4 linked regions of the Homo sapiens genome follow. The protein of the gene in region 2 purifies or fractionates together with the protein of the main gene of each other region. This does not show direct contact. Each region holds a gene or a part of one and is shown on either strand. Other genes may lie near its edges.

Evidence for each region. The genes of interacting proteins can lie anywhere in the genome.
Region 1: the proteins of AMHR2 (region 2) and SGK3 purify together in Homo sapiens (affinity purification with mass spectrometry, with the first as the bait; one large-scale study listed by BioGRID). This does not show direct contact.
Region 3: the proteins of AMHR2 (region 2) and FKBP5 purify together in Homo sapiens (co-immunoprecipitation; 2 studies listed by BioGRID and IntAct, with this or other methods). This does not show direct contact.
Region 4: the proteins of AMHR2 (region 2) and RHBDF2 purify together in Homo sapiens (affinity purification with mass spectrometry; one large-scale study listed by BioGRID and IntAct). This does not show direct contact.

Annotation. Positions count from the first base shown.
Region 1 is NC_000008.11:66,855,764-66,859,160, forward strand, and holds part of SGK3 (serine/threonine-protein kinase Sgk3), read left to right. Parts: intron 1-3,397.
Region 2 is NC_000012.12:53,426,829-53,429,513, forward strand, and holds part of AMHR2 (anti-Muellerian hormone type-2 receptor isoform 1 precursor), read left to right. Parts: intron 1-1,048; coding exon of another isoform or gene 1,049-1,105; intron 1,106-2,067; coding exon 2,068-2,182; intron 2,183-2,624; coding exon 2,625-2,685. UniProt on the Homo sapiens protein: On ligand binding, forms a receptor complex consisting of two type II and two type I transmembrane serine/threonine kinases.
Region 3 is NC_000006.12:35,573,907-35,577,432, reverse strand, and holds part of FKBP5 (peptidyl-prolyl cis-trans isomerase FKBP5), read left to right. Parts: intron 1-199; coding exon 200-439; intron 440-1,490; coding exon 1,491-1,598; 3' UTR 1,599-3,526. UniProt on the Homo sapiens protein: Immunophilin protein with PPIase and co-chaperone activities. Component of unligated steroid receptors heterocomplexes through interaction with heat-shock protein 90 (HSP90).
Region 4 is NC_000017.11:76,494,915-76,498,440, reverse strand, and holds part of RHBDF2 (inactive rhomboid protein 2), read left to right. Parts: intron 1-3,526. UniProt on the Homo sapiens protein: Regulates ADAM17 protease, a sheddase of the epidermal growth factor (EGF) receptor ligands and TNF, thereby plays a role in sleep, cell survival, proliferation, migration and inflammation. Does not exhibit any protease activity on its own.

The sequences.
Region 1 (3,397 bases), on a different chromosome or scaffold from region 2:
AGAAGTGCAATATTAAACCATAACAGGTTACCATTTTTCACCTGGCAGATTAACAAAGATCAAACAGTTAGCTATTCTAGGGTTTGATGAAGTAGGTGTTCTCATACAGTGTTCTCAGTACTTTACATGTATCCTTTTACTAAATCCTGACAACAATCCTATGAGATAGTACTGTAATTTTCCATATATATGGATGAGTTAACTGAGGCACAAAGAAAGTTAAATAACTTTTCTCAAAATTAAAGTTCCAGAACTAGAATTTGAACTCTAACTCTCAGATACTCTGAAGGCAGAGCCCTCAACTGTTCTTTTTTTTTTTTTTGAGATGGAATCTTGCTCTGTCACCCAGGCTGGAGTGCAGTGGCACGATATTGGCTCACTGCAACCTCCGCCTACCGGGTTCAAGTGATTCTCCTGCCTTAGCCTCCCAAGTAGCTGAGACTACAATAGCTGGCCACCATGCTGGGCTAATTTTTTGTATTTTTAGTAGAGATGGGGTTCCATCGTGTTAACCAGGATGGTCTCGACCTCCTGACCTTGTGATCCGCCTGCCTCATCCTCCCAAAGTGCTGGGATTACAGGCATGAGCCACCGTGCCTGGCCCGCTCTCACTCTTAATAAACCACATAGTACAGGTTGAGTATCCTTTATCTGAAATGTTTGGGACCAGAAGTGTTTTGGATTTGGGATTGTTTTTTGGATTTTTGGATTTACTTACTGATTGAGCATCCCATATCTGAAAATCTGAAATTCAAAATGCTCCAGTGACTGTCATGTAGATGCTCAAAATTTTTGGCTTTTGGAGCATTTTGGATTTTGGATTTTCAGATTTGGGATGCTCAGCCTGTATTATTCCTGTCAGTACCAGCCATGAGCCATGAGGGCATTATAAAGGCAAGTCAGAGAACATTGCCATCATTTGAGTGCCTTCTACATGTTAGATTCTGGAAATTTTATTAACGCATCAGATCCTTGCAATAACCTCAGGAGGTAGGTGATAGTATTCTTACTTTATGGAAGAAGAAACAAGCTCATAGAGATAGAGTAGTTTATATAACGAATTACACAACTGTAATCCAAGCACTTTGAGAGGCCGAGACGGGCATATCACTTGAGGTCAGAAGTTCGAGACCAGCCTGGCCAACATGGTGAAACCCTGTCTCTACTAGAAATACAAAAATTAGCTGGGCATGGTGGCACATATCTGTAGTCCCAGCTACTCAGAAGTCTGAGGCACAAGAATTGCTTGAACCCAGGAAGTGGAGGTTTGAGTGAGCCAAGATCACGCCACTGCACTCTAGCCTGGGCAACAGAATGAGATTCTGTCTCAAAAAAAAAGGACAGCTAGCAAATTTTGTAGCCAGAATCCAAGAGCCCATGCTTCAAGGATTGTATATAAGAATTTGATGAGGAAAAAACCATACATACGTACATACATACATACATATAAAACTTCTAGCATTCTTTGTCTCTATGGGGGATTTTCTCATATGGGAGGATCTAGCATTCTGGGTTTTTGTGGTCTCTGCTCAGTTTGTAGATGTACCAGGCTGTTATCCTTTGCTTATAATATCCACTCTGAATTTCTATCAGCACACCCTCAGTTAGACTTAATGACTTGAACATTTTAAGGGTTCCCTTCCCTGTAGAGCAGAAATAACCTAGAAATTCAGGGATGGACTTTAAGAATGAATCACCTGAATTTGTATCCCAGTTTTTATCTATAAATATATTGGGGCTGGGCATGGCGGCTCATGGCTGTAATCTCAACACTTTGGGAGGCTGAGGTGGGAGGATTGCTTGAGCCTAGGAGTTCAAGACCAGCCTGGACAACATGGTGAGAACTTGACTCTACTAAAAATAAAAAATAAGCCAGGTATAGTGACACATGCCTGTGGTCCCAGCTACTTGGAGAAGGCTAAGGCAGGATGATCCCTTGAGCCCAGGAGGTCGAAGCTGCAGTGAGCTGTGATTGTGCCACTGCATTCCAGCCTGGACTACAGGATGAGACCCTGTCTCAAAAAAGTGTGTGTGTATGTGTGTGTGTGTGTGTGTGTGTGTGTGTGTGTGTGTGTGTGTAGGAAAGGTAGAGTCTATTAGCTTGTATCAGATTTGTAAAGGAAAGTTAACCACTGCCTTTGAGCCTAAGCAGCCATCATGCTTAATTTTCATATCAGGACTCGGAAGCCCTCCAGAGCTAAGGGTGCCCTAGTCAAATGCTTCATTGACAGTCTCTGTAGCACAGTAAGAGTCATCTTTCACAATTTTACTTATAACCAAGAACCTAATTAAATAAGTGATAACAAAAAATTATTATTTTACTTATAACCGCTTCATTTATTCATCAGAAGGCTTTACCCACCCATAATTGAGAAACCAGATGGACAGGCGTTTTATGGAAGCTCAAATACAAAATGCTAGGACGGGTGCGGTGGCTCACGCCTGTAATTCCAGCACTTTGGGAGGCTGAGGCAGGTGGATCACGAGGTCAGGAGATCAAGACCAAGACTGGCTAACTCGGTGAAACCCCGTCTCTACTAAAAATAGAAAAAATTAGCCGGGCATGGTGGTGGGCGCCTGTAGTCCCAGCTACTCGGGAGGCTGAGGCAGGAGAATGGCGTGAACCCGGGAGGCGGAGCTTGCAGTGAGCCAAGATGGCGCCACTGCAGTCCAGCCTGGGTGACAGAGCGAGACTCTGTCTCAAAAAAAAAAAAAAAATACAAAATGCTATCCTGAAAACCTACCTGAGACCTTTTTCTAAACTTGGGTGTAGTGTGAGGCAGTGATGGGTAGAGAGAAAGGGGATCAGTGACAAGCCTTGAGATTTAAATTAACAATGAATCTCTGTTTGTGAGCCTTCCTTACTTTTCTGTCTCCTCCCCCAACTCAAAAAGAACCTTAACTGTTAGAATAAGCTTGTTCAGTGCACAGTCTGTGGGCTACATGAGGCACAGGATGGTTTTGAATGCGGCCCAACACAAATTCTTAAACTTTCTGTAAAACATTATGAGACCTTTTTTGCATTTTTTTGTTTGTTTTTTAGCTCATCAGCTATTGTTAATGTTGGTGAGTGTGGTCCAAGACCATTCTTCTTCTTCCAATGTGGCCCAGGGGACCAAAAGATTGGACACCCCTGTTTTAGGAGGACAGATAACTTGACCTAAATAATAAAGGTCAGGAAAGGAAAAGCAGAAAAGCGTTTCAAGGGAATGAATTAGGAAGACATCTAACCTTGCCAGGAATAAACACACAAATTCATAAAGGAGTTGTAATAAAGGACTAAATTGGGCCAGGCGCGGTGGCTCACACCTGTAATCCCAGCACTTTGGGAGGCTGAGGCAGGTGAATCACAAGGTCAGGAGTTCGAGACCAGCCTGGCCAACATGATGAAACCCTG
Region 2 (2,685 bases):
CTTGCCACCACGCCTGGCTAATTTTTGCATTTTTAGTAGAGACGGGGTTTCACCATGTTGGCCAGGCTGGTTTCAAAATCCTGACCTCAAGTGATCCACCCATCTTAGCCCCCCAAAGTGCTGGGATTACAGGTGTGAGACACCGTGCCCAGCCAAAAAAAAAAAAAAAAAAATTGTTAAAGAAATATCTTCAGGCACAGCCCTCCAAACTCATTCGTATTCATTCAACAAATAAGTATGAACTATATGTCAGGCACTATGCTAGAGGCCACAAAAAACACACAGTCCCTCTTTTACAGATTTTATAGACTAGCAGGGGAGACAGAAATGGATCAAGTAAACACGAGTGTCAAATGTCAAGTGTGCTAAGTGCTAGGAGAGAGGGCCAATGAACTATAAGAATAATAAGATGTGACTTGAAGGGGAGAGCAATGAGCAACAAGAAGAGGAAAAGGTAGGCAGAGGCCAGCCACACCAGGCCCTGTGGGCCTGTTAAATATTTGGGGCTTTTTAAGTTTTCATACCATTTCCCATCTGCTTCCTGCTAGGCATTACGCTACCCGCTTTTTATTTTATTTTATTTTATTTTATTTTTTAGACAGAGTCTCATTCTGTTGACTAGGCTAGAGTGCAGTGGCACAATCTTGGCTCACTGCAGCCTCTACCTCCTGGTTTCAAGCAATTCTGCCTCAGCCACCTGAGTAGCTGGGATTAAGGCGTGCCGCCACTACTCCTGGCTAATTTTTGTATTTTTAGTAGAGACGGGATTTCACCCTGTTGGCCAGGCTGGTCTCAAATTCCTGACCTCAAGTGATCTGCCTGCCTCGGCCTCCCAAAGTGCTGGAATTACAGGCGTGAGCCACCCCGCCCGGCCATGCTACACGCTTTAAACACATTTCCAAACTTACCCTTCACAAACACATTATGAGATAGGAATGATTATCCACATGGGGCTCAGAAAAGGAAAGTCATTTGCCCAGAATCTATGTGACTCTAGAGCTGGCTCCTCATCATCGTGTCTATTGCCTCCTGTTTACCCCTCCATCAGGACTGTGTGTGTCTCTGTCCACGTGGAAGAGCTCCCCACAACTCACTTTGCCCTATTGTAAGTAGTTCAACCTCCACCACCTGTTTCAGAGCCCAAATGCAGTGGCTCTTCCCTGAACTTTTTCAGCACCTACAGCTTCTGTACTTCTGAAATCTTGAATGATGGAAAGTCCCTTCTTTGACCATATACCTCCTGGCCCAGCTCAAAAATCACTGTTTTTTTGTTTGTTTAATTTCTCTGACTTCTCCAGGCAGGGTTAGTCATTCTTGCTTTATGCCCCTTGGCACTCGGTTAATTTTCCTATCTTGGGGTTTACTGCATTCTTTATCTCTTACCTTCCCTGAGCCATCTTGGTGCCTGAACACAGTTCGTGGCCACCGAAGGTGCTCGATGACACTTGTTGAATGAGGGGTTCTATTGCTCCCTTCCCTCCAATTCCCACTTGCCCTCCACCTGCTACTCTGTTATCTACTGGCTCTGCCCGTCTATGTGTACACATGCCTGACACCTCAGACAAGGTGACTCATGAAGGATGCCCCTGACTAGCTTGCCCTGCCTCCTCTGTTACTGTCTTTGCCGCATGTCTTCTGAGTCAGTATAAGGTGGTGGTTATTAGTAAGTGATCCTGAGTCAGACTGCTTGGATTCAAGCTCCACTCCTGCCTCACCGACTGACTTCAAGAGAGTTTCCTTAGTTCTGTAAGGAAAAGCTCTTCATCTGTTAAATGGGGGTGTGACAGGAGCACCTACCTTCTAGGGTTTTCACAAGGATTACAGGAGGCCACATCCACTGGGTCTGGACCACAGTAAGTGCCCAGTACCCTTGATCTAGAGTTACTATTTTTCATGTCAATTGATGCACAGTCTTACTCCTCTACCTATTGTCTTGGCCAGCATCCATCAGTGTGTCTGTCTGCTGGGGAGATGCAGGGAGAAGACTGTCAATTGATCTCTGCTCCCTGGGATGGATCAGCCGTCTCCAGCTTTGTGTACCATCCTTTTCTCTCTGCGTTTCCCCAGGGCTCCCTGTGCCACTACTTGACCCAGTACACCAGTGACTGGGGAAGTTCCCTGCGGATGGCACTGTCCCTGGCCCAGGGCCTGGCATTTCTCCATGAGGAGCGCTGGCAGAATGGTGGGTGAGCTGGGCATAGGAAGTCAAGGGAGCCACAGTGCTATGTTTGTGATTCTGCCTTAGTTTGGAGGGGAAAGATTGGGTCAAAAGAGGGAGGAAGAGCCGGGCACGGTGGCTCACGCCTATAATCCCAGCACTTTGGGAGGCCGAGGTGGGCGGATCACAAGGTCAGGAGATCGAGGCCATCCTGGCTAACATGGTGAAACCCTGTCTCTATTAAAAATACAAAATATTAGCCGGGCGTGGTGGCATGTGCCTGTAGTCCCAGCTACTCGGGAGGCTGAGGCAGGAGAATCACTTGAACCCGGGAGGCGGAGGTTGCAGTGAGCCGAGATCGCGACACTGCACTCCAGCCTGGGCGACAGAGCGAGACGCCGACTCAAAAAAAAAAAAAGAGGGAGGAAGAAAATCCATGTTCCTTCAACCTTGGATTCCCCCACAGGCCAATATAAACCAGGTATTGCCCACCGAGATCTGAGCAGCCAGAATGTGCTCATTCGGGA
Region 3 (3,526 bases), on a different chromosome or scaffold from region 2:
CCTTGGGATCTTTCTAGAAATTGCATTAAATGCAGAAAATAATTTGGGTAGTAAATTTTGATCAGTAGTATGTAATTATCTTGAGCCCCATTTTTTTAAATACACTTTTTCCATCTCCTTTGGCAAGAGAACTTTGGTAAGCTGTTTACTGAATTTATTAAAATTCGTCCTTTCTAAAATATAGACCATCTATTCCTAGGCCCTTGGACTGGACAGTGCCAATGAGAAAGGCTTGTATAGGAGGGGTGAAGCCCAGCTGCTCATGAACGAGTTTGAGTCAGCCAAGGGTGACTTTGAGAAAGTGCTGGAAGTAAACCCCCAGAATAAGGCTGCAAGACTGCAGATCTCCATGTGCCAGAAAAAGGCCAAGGAGCACAACGAGCGGGACCGCAGGATATACGCCAACATGTTCAAGAAGTTTGCAGAGCAGGATGCCAAGGTGTGTGCAGAGCCTGATGACTGCAGGTGGATCAAGAGCCTGACCATGCCCCTTTGATTTTAGGGGACAGGAACAGCTAAACAACCCAAGAGGCTCAAGAGCAGGGAAAACGATTTCCAATCTAATCTGAGGCTGCTTTGGATCCAAAGGTCGAGTAGGGCAGTTCCAGTCACCAAAGGCACACGTCATGAGAGATGAGAAAACTAAATTCCCTTCAGATGTATTAGATTGGTTCAAAAGTAATTGTGGTTTTTACCATTACTTTCAATGGCAAAAACAGCAATTTTGCACCAACTCCCCCCGCCCGCCCCCCGGGCCCCTGCCCGAGTCAGAGTCTCACTCTGTCACCCAGACTGTAATGCAGTCGTGCTAACATGGCTCACTGCAGCCTTGACTTCTCTGGATCAAGTGATCCTCCCACCTCAGCCTCCTGAGTAGCTAGGACAAGCACACTACCACACTGGGCTAATTTTTTAAAATTTTTTGTAAAGATAGGGTTTCACTTTGTTGTCTAGGCTGGTCTCGAACCCCTGGCTTCAAGGGTTCCTCCTGCTTTGGTCTCCCAAAGTGCTGGGATTATAGACATGAGCCACCATGCCCAGCCCTTTTGTCATTTTTGAAAAATTGTAAACCCATCAGGATTTTTTTTTCAAGTAAGACTTACGATTTTCCCAGGAAATGGGATGTTATAGGAGCCCCATCATCACACCTGTTATCTTGAGGGTCGGCAGCCAGCCTGAAAAATGTGGCAGGAGAGGTCTGTCTGCAGAGAGGGCGGCCTCCCTACAGCATAGTTGGCATTCTGGTCCTGTCCCCAGTCTCCAGGAATGCCCAGACTTCATTATCCCACAGCTGTCCCATGTGTCAACCAAAGAAAGGTGAAGCTCCCACTCTAACTATTGGTAGCACAGCCCTGACCTACCCAGCTAGATATCCTAGAGAAAATCATTGCAATACCTCGTGTTTGGGACCTGATACACAGTCTGGAGGAGCCAGGAATTATTTCACTTCTTTATTCTCTAACCTTCTTGATTGCTTATTTCTTCCTTAGGAAGAGGCCAATAAAGCAATGGGCAAGAAGACTTCAGAAGGGGTCACTAATGAAAAAGGAACAGACAGTCAAGCAATGGAAGAAGAGAAACCTGAGGGCCACGTATGACGCCACGCCAAGGAGGGAAGAGTCCCAGTGAACTCGGCCCCTCCTCAATGGGCTTTCCCCCAACTCAGGACAGAACAGTGTTTAATGTAAAGTTTGTTATAGTCTATGTGATTCTGGAAGCAAATGGCAAAACCAGTAGCTTCCCAAAAACAGCCCCCCTGCTGCTGCCCGGAGGGTTCACTGAGGGGTGGCACGGGACCACTCCAGGTGGAACAAACAGAAATGACTGTGGTGTGGAGGGAGTGAGCCAGCAGCTTAAGTCCAGCTCATTTCAGTTTCTATCAACCTTCAAGTATCCAATTCAGGGTCCCTGGAGATCATCCTAACAATGTGGGGCTGTTAGGTTTTACCTTTGAACTTTCATAGCACTGCAGAAACCTTTAAAAAAAAAATGCTTCATGAATTTCTCCTTTCCTACAGTTGGGTAGGGTAGGGGAAGGAGGATAAGCTTTTGTTTTTTAAATGACTGAAGTGCTATAAATGTAGTCTGTTGCATTTTTAACCAACAGAACCCACAGTAGAGGGGTCTCATGTCTCCCCAGTTCCACAGCAGTGTCACAGACGTGAAAGCCAGAACCTCAGAGGCCACTTGCTTGCTGACTTAGCCTCCTCCCAAAGTCCCCCTCCTCAGCCAGCCTCCTTGTGAGAGTGGCTTTCTACCACACACAGCCTGTCCCTGGGGGAGTAATTCTGTCATTCCTAAAACACCCTTCAGCAATGATAATGAGCAGATGAGAGTTTCTGGATTAGCTTTTCCTATTTTCGATGAAGTTCTGAGATACTGAAATGTGAAAAGAGCAATCAGAATTGTGCTTTTTCTCCCCTCCTCTATTCCTTTTAGGGAATAATATTCAATACACAGTACTTCCTCCCAGCATTGCTACTGCTCAGCTTCTTCTTTCATTCTAATCCTTGCTATTAAGAATTTAAGACTTGTGCTTACAATATTTTTGACCTGGAGTGGATCTATTTACATAGTCATTTAGGATCCATGCAGCTTTTTTTGTCTTTTTAAGATTATTGGCTCATAAGCATATGTATACTGGTTTATGGAACTTTATTTACACTCCTCTATCATGCAAAAAAATTTTGACTTTTTAGTACTAAGCTTAATTTTTAAAAACAAAATCTGTAGGGTTGACAAATAAATAGTTGCTCTTCTACACTAGGGGTTTCACCTGCAGGTTTGACACGCAGTTGCTCGCTTTTCCTGCCCTGTCAAGCTTCTCTGTTCTGGCGTGAGTTGTGAAAGAGTTGAAGACAGCTTCCCATGCCGGTACACAGCCAGTAGCCTAAATCTCCAGTACTTGAGCTGACCATTGAACTAGGGCAAGTCTTAAATGTGTACATGTAGTTGAATTTCAGTCCTTACGGGTAAACAGATTGAGCATGGCTCTCTATTCCCTCAGCCTAAGAAACACTCATGGGAATGCATTTGGCAACCCAAGGAACCATTTGCTTAAACCTGGAACATCTCACCTTTTTAAATCCTAAAAAACACTGGCAGTTATATTTTAAATTAGTTTTTATTTTTATGATGGTTTTATCAAAAGACTTTTATTATTAGATTGGGACCCCCTTCAAACCTAAAAATCAAGTTATTTCCTTTTATAATACTTTTCTTCCCCATGGAACAAATGGGATCAATTTGTGAGTTTTTTCCTTTAATGATAACTAAAATCCCTCTAATTTCTCATTTATGCTTTTGTCTTTTTTATGAAATATTTCTTTTAAAAGCCCCAGTCTCACCTACGAAATATGAAGAGCAAAAGCTGATTTTGCTTACTTGCTAAACTGTTGGGAAAGCTCTGTAGAGCATGGTTCCAGTGAGGCCAAGATTGAAATTTGATACTAAAAAGGCCACCTAGCTTTTTGCAGATAACAAACAAGAAAGCTATTCCAAGACTCAGATGATGCCAGCTGTCTCC
Region 4 (3,526 bases), on a different chromosome or scaffold from region 2:
CCTGGCTGCCTCTCCCCCTCCACACTCTCCTCAGATCTCTGTGCCTCGCACTCTGGAGCAGGCCTCGGCGCTGCCCCATCTGCCCCAGGGGATTTCCAGAGTGAGCTCAGGCATCTGCACCGGCTGTGGAAGCGCTGGCTGTCGGAAGCGGCTCCCAGTTTCCTATCCAGCTGAGCCAGGCTGGGGGAGGAGTGGCGGGGACGTCTGCGCCTGCCCAAGTACAGGCTGACCTCGGCGGTGGTGGTGGCTAGGCAGGGACAGCTCTCAGGGCACGGGCGGCTTCACAGGGAAACCAAGCCTGCCCGGAACGTCGTTTTGCCTCCCAGGAGACCTAGGATGGGTGTAAGGAAAAACACATCTTCCGGGAAGTACAAAGCGCCACCGTGTCCACGGCCCCTCCTTCAGCAAATGTATCCGGGCGCCCAGCTGGGAGTTGTTTGTGGTCCAAAAGCTACTGGAAGGCAGTTCCAGCCCCAGTGCCCGGCTCCTGCAGGAAAGTGGTTTCAGCCAAGTGGGCAGTGCAGGAGGTGGGCCAGAGACACTGTTTGGAGTGTGAGGGGAACCTTGTGACCAGCAGAAAAGGATGGAGGAGGATTCCAAACTTCAGGAGCTGGGCCAAGGTCCAGGGGCTGCTGGGCACAGTCGTCCATGTGTGTGCTCAGTAGGATGAGTTCACTTAATTAGTCTGTGCCTCAGTTTCCCCAGCTGCACAGTGGGCTCACTAACAGTAATCTACCTGGAGGGTTGTGTGAGGTGAGGACTCCCGTGGTAAAGGTGTGCAGCCTGCAGTGCAGTGCCCGGCCATGGCAGGAGCAGTGCGGGGAGCCATCGTGATAATGGTGTTAGGGTGGCTTCAGGTAGGGGCGTGGCTGCCGGTCCATGGCACAGACTTGGGAGATGGCCGAGGCCCTGCCTCGTGGGCTGTCAAGGACTAGATGGGAACACGCATATGGAGCAGTGGCACTGTTGTTATTGTTATTCTGTAGGAGTGGCTGTGTCTGGGGTAGGGGGACCTCAGTGCCTTGCTGGCCAAGGGAAGTGAGGGTGGGTTTCCATCTGGGCATGAACTGCTGACCTCTGCCCAGGGGTTTTCCTGGCCTGCCAGTGTGTGTGTGTCACTGACAGTGGGGTGGGGGGCAGCTCATGGAGTTGGTGCCCCTCAGCTGTGCTTTCCCTGGCGTAGGTTCCTGGGGCTGGGAGCAGGGTAAAGCTGCCTCAAGTCTTGGTTTTCTCCTCTGCCTCCCCCGTGTGGCCGCCAACCCTGTGCCAGCAGGTGGTGCAGGGATGGCTTCCTGCCCCGGTCTCTGGCAAGAAACCCTTTTCCCTCTCCCAGTGGGTCTCCCCAGGTTGTCAGCTCCATTTAGTCATAAGAAGATCTGGGGCCAGGCGCGGTGGCTCACGCCTGTAATCCCAGCACTTTGGGAGGCTGAAGCAGGCAGTCACAAGGTCAGGAGATCGGGACCATCCTGGCTAATACGGTGAAACCCCGTCTCTACTAAAAATACAAAAAAATTAGCCAGGTGTGGTGGCATGCACCTGTAGTCCCAGCTACTCAGGAGGCTGAGGCAGGAGAATCGCTTGAACCCAGAAGGCAGAGCTTACAGTGAGCCGAGATCACCCTACTGCACTCCAGCCTGGGCAGCAGAGCGAGACTCCGTCTCAAAAAATAAAAGAAAAAAAAAAGAGATCTGGAAGAGGAGGGTTGAGGATCTGCTGTGGGGTTTGGAGTGGGAACAGGACTTTGAACCCTGGCCTAAGCCCCTTTTGACCTTGCCAGCCCGTGAGGATGATGACAGCCGCCTCTCACCCTTAGCCTCAACTAAATGAGATCATGTCTGTAAAAGTCCTTTGCAAGCTGAGCAGTGCTGCCCAGGCAGTTAGGTGCTGTCCCTTCTTCATGAATCAAAGGCCTTTGCATGCAGGACTCACTCCAGCACCCCAAACACTCAGAGTCCTCACCCGTTCTTTTTCTCCTGCCCCTCACCAGTTCCAGGGTGGCAAGAGGCTGCAGAGTGTGGAGGTTAAGAGCGCGGGACCCTGGCTGGGGTTGTAGCCCCACCACCTCCCTAACTGTGGGACCTTGGACAGGTGACTTCATCTCTCTGAGCCTCAGTTTCCCCACCTGTCGAATAGAGATCTGTCCCCTGTGGGGCTCGTGGCTCAGATAGAGACTAAGTGAGCGATGGTGGCAGAGCTCAGCCAGGAATAAAAGAAACTTCCAACTGGGCGTTGGGTGTGTGCCAGGCACTGTACATTCATATCTGCTGTCATCTTCCCTGGCTCCCTCCGTGGTGGGGCATCAACCCATCTCACAGCAGAGGAGGCAGGCTCTGCAGCACCCACTTGCCCAAAGTCTCCCAGCAGGTAGGTGGCCCAGGCAGGTTTGAGTCCCATCTCTGGCCCCTTATTCCTCCTCATTCCTCAGCAAGAGAGCTCCACGCTGCCCCGAAGCAAGGTGTGGGCCATAAGCACGTGGCTTTGCAGGCCTGCTTGGGACAAGCAACCTGGTGTCCCCGTGTCCTGAAACCCTGGCAGTCACTGGGGCTAGGGCCAGCCTCTTCCCTGGGAAGCAGGGAGCCCCAGGGCAACGTTCTGGGAAATCAGGTTTATTAGTTCCTTAATGACCGTTTACAAGCTCAGAAGTGTCTGCCTGGCATTTTCCCTCCCTGCTGAGGGGCTCCATGCAGCCGGAGGCAGAACTGGGCCTCCAGAAGCGCTCTGAGTGTGTCGAGGTGAGGGCCCAGGGATGCCGTCGGCTCCCTGGGCTCTGCATGCTCACACCCAGCCAGTCCAGGCCTATTTCTGGCTGGGTGGCACTGGGCAAGGTGCTTACCTCTCTGTACAATAGGTGAGACCTTGTACCTCAGCTGAGCTGTTCCTGGGGTGAGCCCTCGTTCATGGTGACAAAGTCACATAGATCTTAGACCCTGGGAGGATACTAGCATCTTATGCATACACAAACTGAGGCTCAGAGATGTTAAGTGGCTTGCCCAAGATCGCACAGTGGTTAGAGATGGGCCTGTGACCCTGTCTTCTGCCATCGGGACAGATTTTCACTGTCTGGAGGCAGGTGGAAACCGGGTGGGCTCCTACTTTGTAAGCACAGGACAGTGCCCTGTCTGTGTACATGGGACAGTCACAAACGGAAATGGCCTGGTCACACCTTAGTGTCAAGGAGCCTCCAGCAGGAGTGAAACGGACCTCTCACACAGACCCCAGGCTGCATCTCATCCTGCCCCAACCGCTGGGCTTGTGCTGGACCACCACTGCTTCCAAGGACCCGTGAAAACCCGGCTGCCGGGATGCAGAGAGGCAGACTTTCATGAACGTTTGCAGCAAAGGGCAGTTCCCACCGAGCCTGTGTTGCTGTGGCACTGTGTGGTGCACACCCCACCCCGGAAACCCTCCAGTGTCCTGGTGTCTGACCCCAAATGGACAGGGCCTTTTGGCCCCCAGGGGCCACTTCTGACTCCTCCCCTTCACAACGATGCTGAGGGAGCAGGAGAACTGGGGCCCGGCTGCTGTG